Linked DNA regions of Homo sapiens. The protein of the gene in region 4 interacts with the protein of the main gene of each other region in a biochemical or structural test. Each region holds a gene or a part of one and is shown on either strand. Other genes may lie near its edges.

The links. Proteins that work in one complex are often made in the same cells at the same time.
Region 1: the proteins of PKP4 (region 4) and GRIP2 interact in a test that uses a peptide from one of them, tested with the Homo sapiens proteins (one large-scale study listed by IntAct).
Region 2: the proteins of PKP4 (region 4) and SIPA1L2 interact in a test that uses a peptide from one of them, tested with the Homo sapiens proteins (one large-scale study listed by IntAct).
Region 3: the proteins of PKP4 (region 4) and FRMPD1 interact in a test that uses a peptide from one of them, tested with the Homo sapiens proteins (one large-scale study listed by IntAct).

The regions. Positions count from the first base shown.
Region 1 is NC_000003.12:14,533,843-14,537,342, reverse strand, and holds part of GRIP2 (glutamate receptor-interacting protein 2), read left to right. Parts: intron 1-3,500.
Region 2 is NC_000001.11:232,459,134-232,462,633, forward strand, and holds part of SIPA1L2 (signal-induced proliferation-associated 1-like protein 2), read right to left. Parts: intron 2,029-3,500; coding exon 1,754-2,028; intron 1-1,753.
Region 3 is NC_000009.12:37,706,454-37,709,953, reverse strand, and holds part of FRMPD1 (FERM and PDZ domain-containing protein 1), read right to left. Parts: intron 2,539-3,500; coding exon 2,381-2,538; intron 1,556-2,380; coding exon 1,453-1,555; intron 1-1,452. UniProt on the Homo sapiens protein: Stabilizes membrane-bound GPSM1, and thereby promotes its interaction with GNAI1.
Region 4 is NC_000002.12:158,463,452-158,466,951, forward strand, and holds part of PKP4 (plakophilin-4), read left to right. Parts: intron 1-3,500. UniProt on the Homo sapiens protein: Plays a role as a regulator of Rho activity during cytokinesis. May play a role in junctional plaques.

The DNA of each region.
Region 1 (3,500 bases), on a different chromosome or scaffold from region 4:
CAGGGTGCGTGTGTAAGTTCCAACAGGCGGATGGGGAAGGCCTCCCTGAGGAGGTGACATTTCTACAAGTTCCCGAAGGAGCTGAGACGGGAGTTTTGATGATGTCTGGGGAAGAGTTTTGTGGGCAGAGGGAACAGCCGATGCAAAGGCCCTAGGGGGATGTGAGTCTGGTGGGCCTTGGGTCGAAAGGACAGATGTGTCCAGGAAGGCTTCACCTCCCTTTAGAGTGCAGTTGCCAAGGTGGGGTGGGCCCATAGGGTCAAATCTCCGCTTTGTCACTTCTGGCTGTGTAACCAGGAACAAGTCACTTAGCATCTCCATGCCTCAGTTTTCCCAGCTGTAAAATGGGGAGAATAACAGTGCCCAAGTGGCAGTGTGGTTATGAGGATTAAGTGAGAAAATGCAGTGTGCTGGAGTGGAGCTGGCCAGGGCGAGCATCAGGAGGTGAAGTCAGGGGACCGGGGACTGACAGTTGTGGTGAGGACTTCTGCTTCTACTCTCCCTGAGCTAGACACAGTCTTCTTGTGACTGCAGGCAGCCGCCATTGGGAAACTGAATGGTTCTGTGGGTGACCCTGATTTTGAGGTCACGTTCCTTGACATTGCTGGTTTTAGAGTAGGGCAGGAGAGCAGGACCCAGAACGCAGAAGGCCAACCCCCAACTTGAGACTGCGCCCCCGCTCTCCCATGGTGGGATGTTGGCCTGCGTGTGGCTCAGGCCTGCTGGACAGGAGCCCCTCTCCCTGTGTGGAGGAGGATTGTGGGGGTGGCGGCCTCTCCAGGTGATGCCATGGGTCCTGCTAGCCCTGATGCACCCAGCCTGTGAGTGCCTGAGCCCTAACTTAGGTATTCTTGGGATACTGGAGCTGTCACCTTCCCAGTGCCCTGATGCTTCTCATTTGGGGTCTGTTGCCCTCCTGTTTGGAGGGAAAGAGCAGAGCCAAGGGTTCAGGGCATGGTCTGTTGTGAGGTCAGGGAGCCCTGGGTTCCAGGTGCCTCTGCAGCTCACCAGCTCAGTGGCTTCTCTGGGCCTCAGGCTCCCTATCTGTAAACTGGGGACAATCGGTGAGCCTCCCTCCATGGTTCTTAGGACAATTAACTGACTTAGCATTCATAAAGTGCTTAGAGCAGGCCTGGCCCAGGGAAGGGCCCAACACTGGGTGCTACTTATTAAGGTTCTTTATTTTTTTCTTTGCAATCCTTGGCAACAAATGAATGAGGCTTCAAATTTTTAAATGTATTGATGCATTTCTTTTTGTCTCCCTGAAAAACGTGCTTCTGCCGAGCTTATCTGATCTTTCTATGCTGCTCTCCCCATGGAAGCTGGGCTTCCTGGGAGGCTTGTCGCCCGTGGGGATTGGAACTGTCATTCAGAGGTCAGCCTGTAACTGGCTTTGAGGCATCTCCATCGAGCCCTTGGCCTGTTCCAGCCCTCAGTGGCCAGGGAGGAACGCCCAAAGGAGCTGGGGCTCTGCCTGGAGCCGAACAGCCCCGGGGCTGCAGGCATTACAGCAACTTCCAGGCTTGCATGGATGGGGGAGTAGGCAGGAAGGTACCCAGAGGGTAGGGCCAGACCCCTTAGGGAGCCAGAAGGCCTGGGCTTCAATCCTGGCTCTGCCACTTAGAAGCTCTGTGCCCCTGGGCAGTTCCCTTGACCTCTCTGTGCCTCATTAGGCCTGGGTTCAAACCCTGGCCCTGCCCTTTATCATGGGATATCACTTAACCTCTCTGTGCCTCAGTTTCCTCATCTGTAAAATGAGAATCATGATTATACCGCCTCAAAAGTGGTGAGGATTAAATGAGATCGTGCTTAGGAAGCACAGAAACCAGCACTTAATCACTAGGAGCCATCATCATGATTGATCTAGGAAAACCTTTCAACAAGGTGAGGGAAGCAGGCAGGGAGGGAACTGCCATGTTTTATGGTTTCTGTGCACACTTCCCCACAGTTCCTCCCAGCAACCCATGAGGTGGGCACCAGTACCCCCATTTTGCAGAGGAGAAGTCTGAGGCTCAGAGAGAAGTGACTTGTCCCAGATCCCTTAGCCAGTTGGCAGCCGATTTAGAATCAAAGTCCCAAGTTGGACTGACTCCAAAGCCTATCCCTCCCTTCCCACCATATCAACAATCCCTTCCATGGTGGGGCGAAGCTGGCTGGGGCTGGACCGTCACTTGGTGGAGTACTTAGCGCCCATGTCCTCTTCAGCACCCAGGGTCCCGGTGAGCTGGCATGGTCCTGGCCGACAGCTCACCGTCCCTGCAAATCATGTCCTGTTCGCCCCAAGTGGAGCCTCTGGGCATTTGTTTTCTCAGTGGTCCCTTTTGAGATGCTGAGTCCTCCCTCCAGGAGGCTCACAGAACAGGGCAGCAGTCAAAGCCGGCTGACTTTATAGTCCCACCCACTCCCCCACGCTTCTTTCCAGCCACCCGCTTAGGCAGGACCCTGGCGAAGGCAGCCTGGCAAGGAGTTGACTTCCTTTTCCCTTTGTCAAAGCTCAATAGCCCCCTGAGGCCCCAGAGAGCGGGAGATAATGAAGGCAAATTAGCCATGATTTCAAGAGAAATAAAATAAAAAAGAAGGCCACCCACCCCGGCTGCAGCGTGGGCCTGAGTACCAGGTGCACAGGTCTGAGCTCCAAGCACGTTTCTCCCTCTGTCCCTCCTCCCCTGACTTGCACACCCCACATTCGCCGGGACTGGCTGGCACCACTGCGGAAATGAATTTTCCTCTGAAGCGAGTTCCTACAGGACGATTGACTGAAGGCAAAAGCTCATAATTGCCCGTTGCTGGAAGGAGGAGACAGGGAAAAAAAAAAACATGGATAAAAATATCTCTGTTTTTTATGCACGTTTCCAGCTGAAAATTGGTGGGAAAGATGTTTTTGAAAAGCCTTCATCTCTAAGCATATAATTACCAGGTCCTGGAACAAAAAAGAGAGAGTGGGAGAGAGCAAGCATGTTCTCTGAGGAGGGGGCCTAGGGTCTGACCCCCCCAAGGGGTTTTCTATAAATAAAGTAATCCCCTCAACTTCTCAAGCTCTGGCCAGCTGGAGTCAGCCATGGGAGAGACACCCCCATTTTACAGAGGGGAAAATGGAGGCTCGAGTCACACAGCCAATTGTAATTCTAACCCTATTTTGATTCTTGGTTTGGATGCTGCCTCAGTTCCCCCCCATCTGAGGATGTTCGTGAAAGAGAGGCCCTATGTCCCCTCTGAATAGGCATCAGCAAACACTGCAGCATTCCTTCCGGGCACCTTTCTGACTATGCCAGGGGGTCTTGGGTGCTCAGAAGCCTCTCATCTGGCAACTCGCCTATCAAGAATGGCTTCTTGACTTCCACAAGAGGCCACCAAGGGCACACCCTGAGATGCCTAGGGAAGTCTCTCGAGGCCTCGCCTGCTGCCCACTGACTCTTTGCGCACAGTAGTATGACTTGTTTTGCAGCACGCAGTCAAGTCTCTGACAGCTGGGAAAAGAGATGGCTCACAGGCTGAACCCC
Region 2 (3,500 bases), on a different chromosome or scaffold from region 4:
CAGTGTAAGTGGCTTTTTTTCCTAAAAGGAGATCATGGTTTAGCTGATCTATCCAATATGGCAGCCACTAGCAACACGTGGCCAATTAAATGTAAATTAATTAAAAGGAAAAATTCGTTTCCTAAGTTGCACTACAGTTCATGTACGTAATAGCCACATGTGGTTTGTGGCTACTGCTCTGAACGGTACAGACACAGATCACTGTAGAAAGTGCTAATGGAGAGTGCTGGCTTAAAGGAGGAAGAAAGGAAACAGAGAAAGGAGAGAGTATGACCTAGGTTAGTAAGTCCAGAAAGTAGACCCAACAATCCTACTATCTTTGGATAATCAGAATTTATTTTTTCATATGAAAGAAATTAAAATGAATATGCTAAAGTTTTATTTATTATTATTATTTGAGATGCAGTCTCACTCTGCCACCCATGCTGGCGTACAGAGGCACGATCTCAGCTCAGTGCAGCCTCGACCTCCCAGGCTCAAGGGATCCTCCTACCTTCCCCTTCTGAGTAGCTGGGACTACAGGTGCACACTACTGCACCTGGCTAATTTTTGTATTTTTTGAAGAGATGGGGTTTTGCCATGTTGTCCAGGCTGCTCTCAAACTCCTGGGCTCAAGCGATCTGCCCACCTCGACCTCCCAAAGTGCTGGGATTACAGGTGTGAGCCATAGCGCCCAGCCCCTAAAGTTTTATTTTTCTAAATTAAATGTGTGGGGCAATTATGCTAGAAGGTTCTAAGTGCTTTACATGTGTTACTTTATTTCATCTTCATTGAAATCATAGGAGGTAGGCGATATAATAATCCCATCTTACAGAGAGTAAGTGAGACTTAGAGAGAGTGTGTGAGTTGCCCCAGGCCACACAGCAAATTCCTGGATTCCAAGCATACTTTGTCTCTCAAAAGCCAGAGCTCTTAAGGCTGCCTGTACGAACTCCATTTGGGAATGAAGATAGAGGGAAGGTGCTCTAGATACTACCACCAGTCATGCATTAACACAAGTAGTGGGCCACAGCCTCAATAAACGGCTCCTTCTTAATTAGCATTCTTTCTCCTTTTGGCCTAATATTTTATGTTGGGCATGATTATTTTCTATTAGTAATGTAATAGTATTGCTTTCTAACCCCGTTCTTATCCCAGCCCTCCACCTATCCGCCTCTGAACCTTCCAAGTCTAGCCGTTCCTTTTCATCTATTTCTCCTGACAGTTTATGATAACGCCCTGAACCAGTTCAACATCTCTCAAGCTTCAATTGAGAATGGAGTATTTACCACAGAGAGTACCTGTGCTGTTCCAACATTCTTTCATACCTACAACTATTGGTCTGTTAAATATTTTTTAAATAATCAATGGCTTCATGTTATGGGAAGAAATTCTAACTGAATAGTTAAGTATTTAATGTGCTCAAGGCTGAGCTGTGATACAGAATTATTTCCTCTTAGATATAAGAGGTCCAGGGGAACCAGGCAGGTGCTCTTCCCCTTAGTTCAGAATAGCTCAGCTTTAATGTAGTCAATGTTCCATTAAAATGCTTAGCAAATTATTTTTTATCATCTATTACATATTTTAAAGCTCCTTTTCAATTCCTCGAACGAGTGACATCCCAACAACATTGTACAAATGAGTGACATCCCAGAACACTGTACAAAGACACACTTGACTGCATTTTCTGAGGACCTTGCAGGAGCACTGAGGACAGCCACCTGCTACAGAGGCAAAGGAGGAGTGAGCATTACTTGGGCCTCCCACGCCTTACCTTCGGGGCGAGCCGTCATCATGGGGCTGGATGATGACCACCTTCACAGTCACAGAAGTACGGAGCAGGTCGATCATCTGCTCGTGGGTCAGAGTGGCCACGGCTACTTTGCAGATCTCCACGAGGCGGCTCCCTTGGCGAAGGCCAGCCTTCCAGGCAAAGCCAAAAGGTTCCACATCTGCGACAATTCCTTCAAAATTCACATGGAAGCCAAGCTGGCCCAGCCCGTTCCTCCTCAGGGTCATTTCCACAGTCTCGCAGCCTCTCGTCACTATCTAAGGGGGAAGGAGACTGTTAGAGATGCCCTTCCTGCCCAAGCTGCCATGGGGCTCTGCCAAAGGTGCACGTATGGGCCTCCATGCCAGCCCTCTCCCTTGGGCCCTCGCAGCCCAGCCTGTCTCTCTCTGCCTTTTCCTCAAACTGTCCAAGTGACAGGACAAGGACACATTTAAGTTCAGAGCTGATCACAATTAACATTTGCATCAAGTGCAAAGAAAATAACAGAAGCAAAGCAATGGTTTCATTCTTCATTCTAAGTCATATCTGTTCTTGATACAGGTGTCCTGCTTTCTTAGATGTCACTGACCCAGAGCTTGAGAGCTTCAGATGGGCTCAGATAATTCCCGTTTTTCCTTTATTAGGTAAATTGACTTGACTTTTAAGCATATAAATCCCATCGTTCTAGATGGATTTTTGCAATGGAAAACCTGTAAAGACTTTGTGGACCATTACAAGTTTCAACCAGCAAGCACTAAAAACCATGAGACAATTTATTCATCCCAAGCAAAGAAAAACACCCCAAAGCACTTGAAAGCTAACGCTTAAGAGCCCACTCTGAGGTTCAGGAAGGGCAGTGGCAGAAAGTCAGAGCTTTAGGAAAACTCTAAATGTTCTCTACGCACCAGCCCTAGGGACATACTGTGGAGTGTTCTGTCCCCTAGGGTCCTTCTCTTGAGGACAGACAACTGCCTATGCTTGCCTGAGTGGTGAGGACCACTCAGATCCATGGTGGGGGCAGGCCAGCCAGACTCCTTGGCCATCTGTTCACAAGGCAAGTGTGTAGGATGGTGCTCTGGCAGGCAGCAGACAGACCCTCTGTGCTTATGGGCTGCCTCTCCTCCACTAGGCCTGTCTCCTAGGGGCTGAGGGCAGCCCCAAGCAATGGAAGCCTCAGTGTATGTACCTTACTCAAGAGTGAGAGAGAGTCAACAGCAGTTCCACAAAAAGGAACATGAAAGAAGAATGGTGGATTGCATCCCACTTGGTACATTAAAGCACCACTAATGCAGCCCTCAAAAGCACTCACCGAGCATAGTTTACATCCAATGAAAGAAAAACATGGGCTCATTAAGTATCACCCGATGACTATGACCTCACCTATCTGTGGGAATTTCAAGTTGGGAGGTATCATACTCCTATCCCCAAAAGCCCAGAGGCAATGTATGAAGTTTCAGTTTAATGAACACTCCATTTCTATGAAACATGCTCTGACTACATAGATACCTATTTAATAAGACCTATGACAGTAAGTACAGCTGTGGGACTGGGGCTGGTTCATGTATCACCACTGTGTCTGATGTTTCCATGGTTACCACAAGTGCACACAATGCCAATCAGCTTTTCCCAGACAGGCATGACAGTTCACGACTCAGCAAAATGCGGAAAGGGGACTGCTGGTTTTAGTTAGTGATGATGTTTTAGAATATTGACGTTTCTAAAGTCATGAACTGAAGTAACTAAAACTTGA
Region 3 (3,500 bases), on a different chromosome or scaffold from region 4:
AGGGTACAGATGCACAGCACACCTCAAGTCATGCATCCCTGCTCAGAAGCCTTCAACTGCTCGCCCTTCCAGGGGGAGAATCACACTGAAACATGCTGTGCTGGCATTCAAGACCTTCTATCATCTGGACTTCACTTCCTAGAACTTTTCTGCAGGCAAACTGAACTGCTCAGCAGCCCCTACTTCCCACCCAGTTGCTTCTGTTTACCTCTTTGCCTGAATCACCCTTCACCTCCATCTTTTGGACCAAATTTTACCCAGCATTAAAGACACAACTGAAATATTTCTGGGCCCTTCTCTGTTTTGTCAGCCTACAACTTCTGCCCAAGTTGGAGGACTCTCCAGCATTTACAGTGTATTTCCTTGGCTTTTCTTTTCTTTTTCTTTCTCTCTTTTTTTGAGATGGAGTCTTGTTCTGTCACCCAGGCTGGAGTGCAGTGGTACAATCGTGGCCCATTGCAACCTCTGCCTCCCGGGTTCAAGCGATTCTCCTGCCTCAGCCACCCGAGTAGCTGGGATGGGAAGACCACTTGAGCCCAAGAGTTTGAGACCAGCCTAGGCAACACAGCAAGTCCCCATCTCAAAAAAAAAGGGAAAAAAAAACAATTAATACCACCCCAAAGCCAGATCAGCCATTCATGAAAAATCACAAACTGAATTTTATATATATATATATATCTCTTCAAGTTAGCTTTCATCTACCTCTGATTCTCGTCTGTCTTTATACTAGTCATTAGAACAATGTTGAGTGAAAAATTTAAAAGCCAAAGCTTCATGTGCCCTTAAAATGTCTGCTTGTCCTCTTCACTCCTATCAATGGCACTCCTCCGTCTTAAAGTCTGGGTTGCCAATTCCCAGCGCTAACCATATTCACTCATTTAACTGAGCACCCACTGAGCCCTGGTCTCAGGAAATCATTGTCTAGGTAAAAAGCGAGGCATTTTCATAAGTCACAATGACACCAGACAGAAGGTTTGGAGGTGCTACATCAATGAAACTACATATATGCCAACCAAGATGCACCTGCAATTATATTTAAGAAGATATATCAAGAGGGATAAAGAAGAACAGATTTGGCATCAATTTAGTTCAATCTTTGGCATATGTTACAACGTGCCTATAAATCCTTAGAGGGTAGGGCCTGTGGGTTATTTATGATCATTACATTCCCTGCATGCTTAGCACGGTGTCTTGGGCATAGCAGGGCTTTGACAAATACAGCACTCTGTGCCTCCCAAGCTCTTTTGTAGGCAAGTGAGAGAGAGTGGACTGTAACAGCCACTAACAAGAAGCCGTTTTAATAGATGGAACTCTAAAACGAGGCTGTTTTTGCTGCTTTAAAGGAGACTTAGCCTTATTAAAATCAGGGGATCAGTTATGCCATTCCTGTTGCCCATCTTTGTTCTTTGATAATCTGTGCAATTCTGTAGATGATGGAAGACCATTTAGTACCTGAGAATATCGACTGCTCGTTCCCAGGAAAGGTCTTCAGCAGGCTCATTGTTCATTTGGAGGATCTGATCACCAGGGAAAAGCTTGCCGTGAGCAGAGCCTCCTGTTGGACAGAAAATAAGTAATTGGTGCTCATGCCGGGAGGACCCAGACTCTATGTGTAATAGCGGCACAGTTAAATGGCACCCTGATCCAGTTCCCAGGGGCACTGGCTCACTCCCCCGCCTTCAGTCAGGCTTGGGCTCATGTGGATCTTAATTTTCCTGTTTATAAACCATGGATAATGTACCTATCATCTATCACCAACTTCCAGGGATGTTAGAAGACTGTCCTGAGAAAGAAAACTAGCAGAAACCTTCTAAATCAATAGAGTTGGCCAGTAAATCTACTCCATTCATCTCTAAAAAACTCTGGTGTGTATGTGTAGTAAATAGAAATCAATACATTTTAACGAATCCCAGATTAACACACCTCAATTATGAAAACAAGCACTGGACTTTCCCCACCTGCTCCTCTCCACCCTGGTACAGCCTGTATTTCACAAGGTTCAAATGAAAACAAATCAATGGTTTCTATTACTGTCTGACCAGAAAGTATCCCCAGCTAGGAGCGTGTGGGGTTCAAAGAGGAAGGCTAGCTTAGCCAAATACTTTCACTGCCCCTGAGACCAGCCAGGGAGCCAAGGGTGGGCAACGCCCTAGCCAAGGCCAGTGGGAGCCTGGGGTTTGGAGCGGCAAGTGCACTTGAGGCTTCCTCCCTCCCAGCATCAAAGTAAGGTGCAAAGCCCAAGACAGAATTAGGTGTGCCTTTTCTAACTTCCCAGGTAGGATTTTCTGCATTTTGTTATAGGATAGAGAGATCGGGGAGATTTGGGGCTATTTCCCCTTAAGAAACCAAACTCCTTTCTCATTTCCCAGTCATCCCCTACCTGCTGTGACAGCCACCACTGTAAGGGGAAGGCTCTCAGAAATGTGAAATCCATAGTCCTGGAGGAGGGTGTCTTTGTCTATCTTTACTGTGTGTCGCACAGGGATGAGGGTCTGAGTTGGGTTCCTGGCGGGCCCATCAGCTGCAGCAACTTTAGCCCTGGAAGAGAAGGAGTATGTAAAAAAGAGAAAGAGAAGACTCTAGTTGTTGGTCACGAACTGGGTCAGCCCTAAGCATCATGGAGAAAGATGCAGAACTGAGCAGACACCAATTCTCCTCTTGAGACAAATAAGACACCAACTCCACTAGCAGAACTTAGGACTGTCCTCTAAAAGAGAAGTCGTATTGCCAGGCATTCTTAATGAGCTAATGCTAAATATCTAGAAAGCGCCCAGGAAGTGCTATGGACACACAGAGAAGGGGGAGAGCAGTTTCACCTTTGTAGGGCAGGGAATAGGGAATCAGGGACGCATCTGGTACTTGGAAGAGGTGGCATTTGAGCTGCACTCTGAGACATGTCTAGGGTATACCTATACAGCCCAGATCCTGGCACACAGAAGATATTCAATAACTGCTGCTGAGTGAATCAATGAATGAATGGATGGATGGATGGATGGATGGATGGATGGATGGATGGACGGACTGACAGAAGAACAGGCAGATGGGCATCCCAGGCAGGACATACTGCTGGAGTCAGAGGTACAGGAGAGGAAAAACATGGATGGTGAGCAGAAACAAGGAGTTGTCAGGTTCAGATGTTTGATGACGGATAATTTTATAGCAAGATTTTGTCTTTGGTGATGTTTTTCTTTGTTTCTTTATGATGAATTTTGCTTCCCTTTAAGCTTTGTAACTGCAAGGTTTCCAATATAAAATCTCAGATAGCAAGGACTCCCTCTATATCAACTTTTAAAACATGTATGTTCCTTAAAAGCAGGAAAGTAATATTTTCTATCTCTCAAAGAGAGAAACCACAAAGCGAGTCACAAGTTATTTGTCATTCACCTGTGGCAAATGATTTTTCCCTCTAACAGTCAGTGGTTCTTTCTGAGGAAGGTCAAATAGTGATGGGATGAGGTGTTTATTGTCATTATGAACAACAGAAATGTGAAGGAGTAATA
Region 4 (3,500 bases):
CTCCCAAATCAAGAAAGGCTAGAAAAGAGGAAGGGGGTTTGGAATATACATGATATAAATCAACAGACAGTGGTTAAATAGATATCAAGAGGCTCTAGTTCTAGTCCTGGCTTTGCCACTATGCAGGTGTGTGTCCCATGAGCACATCATGTAACTCTCGTGGGCTTTAGTTTTCTTGTCTATAAAATGAGGGAGTTGGTCTAGATGCTCTCTAGAGTCCCTCTAGTACTTACATTTCGCAACTCTTAGAACATCAAGCCATTACATTTTTTCCTCAGCAAGAATATGCTGTCTTCCCAAGGATTTATGACAATTTACCCTCTGGGATAAGGAGGGAAAATTGAAGTTGTATACTTGAAATTCTCAGCTCCTGAAAATATGTGTCGCAGCCAGACAAACCTGTGACCCCTCTGTGGCTGAGTCAGTGGCTCCGTGTCTTGTGCGGTAGTGGTGAAGTGCTCCAGGAGTGAGGATCCCTGGGGCCCCTCGGGGCAGGAGCTGAGCAGTGAGCCTTTATGGAGCTGCACATCTGCAGTTTGTCACAGCCCTGACTTCTGGGACTTACTTGTCTACAACCAGTCCCCTGTGCACATTGGAGGCTTCACCTCTGATTGAGACTACATTTTTCAGAAGTTGGATAGAAACAAGAAAGGGGATTTAGCATGGTGGTTAGAAGGGACTAGTCTTGTTACAGTGAGAAAGATCCACTTCTTACTTGCTCAGATGGTTTGATTTGTCCTCAGAGAAGTTAAACAACTGACAGAGTTGCTCCTCTGAAAACATTTTGTATGAATACTTTAGGTTCATAGGGAACTCGTCAATCCATATCTCATAGAATAGAGGGACTTTTCATTCAAGTCTAATTTTTACATATAGACAATCTACCAGTGTTCAGAAATTGTGGCAGATTTCATGAGGAGAATTTTTTACTTGGATTTGTGCTCTTCTATAAAAAGTAATTTAAAAATTCAGTGATGAAAGTTTCTCCTAGACCCTGTTCTCTTCCTTTGTGGAGAAAAAAAATCCGTATAGAACTCTAGTATGTATTTATCTATAAAACAATTGTTTAAAAATATTGAGGTTAGCTCTTCCCCTTTGCTAATGCAATAAGCACATTATTTGCAAAGGGAAGCATTAATTATACTACTATTGTATGCAGTATTAAATGAATTGTCAATGTCACGATCAAAATAAACCCTTGAAGAACTGGCTGTTGTTCCCATACCTTCATGAGAATTGTAAACACTCATGTAAAATAGAAACCATTATTTACCACTTTGCAGTGAAATGGATCATGTGTTCTGACACCTGTACCCTGAGTTGAGTGGGAAACAGGGACTGTTTGATGAATTAAAGGTAACTTTATTCCTGTATACCACTAGGGGTGCAAGTGAGGGGACTGTAGACAATTAGTACTTTAGATATTTGTTGGAGTCCTGCTGTGTGTGCAGTATTGTGTTTCATTTTGCATACTTATTTAAAACGATACTACTTATTTGAAATGATTCATTTTAGTTCATTTTAACCAACATTTTTTAGTCCCCTACTCCATATCAGACTGATAGGCCTTATGGCCAAAAAGATGACTTCCTCCAGGGATACTTACTGTCTGTGTTAGATTCAGTAATGGGAGTCTCGGTCTTTAAGGAATCCATGATACATTTTTCAGTCTGGTTGGGAAAGATAAGACACATGAGGTAGAGAAGATTGTCCTAGAAATGTTGGTATATAAATAAGCATGTAACATTGTTTCATAAGTATTAAGGATGAGCTATAAAATAACTAGGTTGTAGCTCATACTTCTACTTGCTTAATTGTGTATTACATGATAAATTACCCGATTCTAGAGATATGCACTAACCACTCTCATTAGCTTTCTTTGGGAAAAGTCTGCACCAAAGATAAATAGTGATTTCAAAATAAGTTTTAATCATGAACTTGATTATTTTGGCTGTATCTCTTGAAACACTTTACCATATAGCCTATGTGAAATAATTAATCATAATGACAATACATGATTTATGAGAAACCATAATTTATGCTGTAAGACCTGCCATTTTATTACATTCTTATTTTTATTTTTCATGCAGCAGTATTTTCGTTTATTGTGTTTTGTGCTTTTCTTTTATTCTCTATGTAATTTGTGTGCCTTTATAAGCCCAAACTTGCTGTTGAAAATATTCCCTCCCATTGTTATGAATAAACAGAATGTTTCAAAATCTCTCGTGATGTATGCTAGAATAAATGGTCTCATTGAATCTTACTTTGAATCTCAGAATGATGCACTGATGGGAATTTTTCACTTACTGTCATTTTGTCGACAACTACATAAGCAGTAAGTCTGTTTAAAAAAGGCACTGACTAAGGAATCACAAAATCCAACTGGACTTCACAAGAACTATTAATACTATTAGTCTGAGACCTGTGATAAACAACTCAGATGTTAAAGGTCTAATTCAGACTGTCAACAGATGAAAAATAAGTGTCAGTCTGAAATCTTCGGATAGTATATCGGCAAGTGTCAGTCTTCCAAAATATTATTTAGAACTGTGAATATAATTTTTCACAGAAGCAACATTAATCCATAAATCTCCCGTCCTGTAGTGTAACTATAGTATATCAGTTCCATGGGAAAATAGTCCTGCTCTAAGCTACTCAACAGCAGGGACTTTATCTTTCTACAGGACTTAAATCTTGACCTCCAGTGGTTCTACATACCTTAAGTGAATGAATGAGTTTGAATTCTAGTTTTGAACACCTTCACCTGCTACTCTTGGATAATCGTGTCTGTTTGTGCCTAGTACCTATCCTCTGTCCTTTTGTAAACTGGTCTGAGACCCTGATACCATTTATCCTGCATGTTTCAAAGGAAAAAACTATTTAGACTTTAAAAAAATGCTTTTCTAATACAACTTGCTAGATAAATAATTCATTATACCAAATTCCTTAGTAAAGAAATTAACGGCTGGGTGCAGTGGCTCACACCTGTAATCCCAGCACTTTGGGAGGCTGAGGCAGGTGGATCACTTGAGATTAGGAGTTCAAGACCAGCCTGGACAACATGGTGAAACCCCATCTCTACTAAAAATACAAAAAAAAAAAAATTAGCCAGGCGTGGTGGCGGGCGCCTGTAGTCCCAGCTACTTGGGAGGCTGAGGTGAGAGAATCACGTGAACCCGTGAGGCAGAGGTTGCAGTGGGCAGAGATTGCACCACTGCACTCCAGCCTGGGTGACAGAGCGAAACTCCATTTCAAAAAGAAATTAATTAGAAGATTTTAAACAGATTGGTTCATATTCATTTTAAACTTAATTGCCTGGATTATAACCATAGTGAGATGAGTTTTCATAATGCTCTTTATCATACTACTAATAGGCACCAATCAAGCACCAAGACTAAGCTAAGCTTTGAAAGTGTGATATTGAGCAAACTTTCTGTATCTGTACCTTTTGTGAATCAGTAATATCTTTGTATACTCAGTTGAAGAGTTAAGACAGAAGT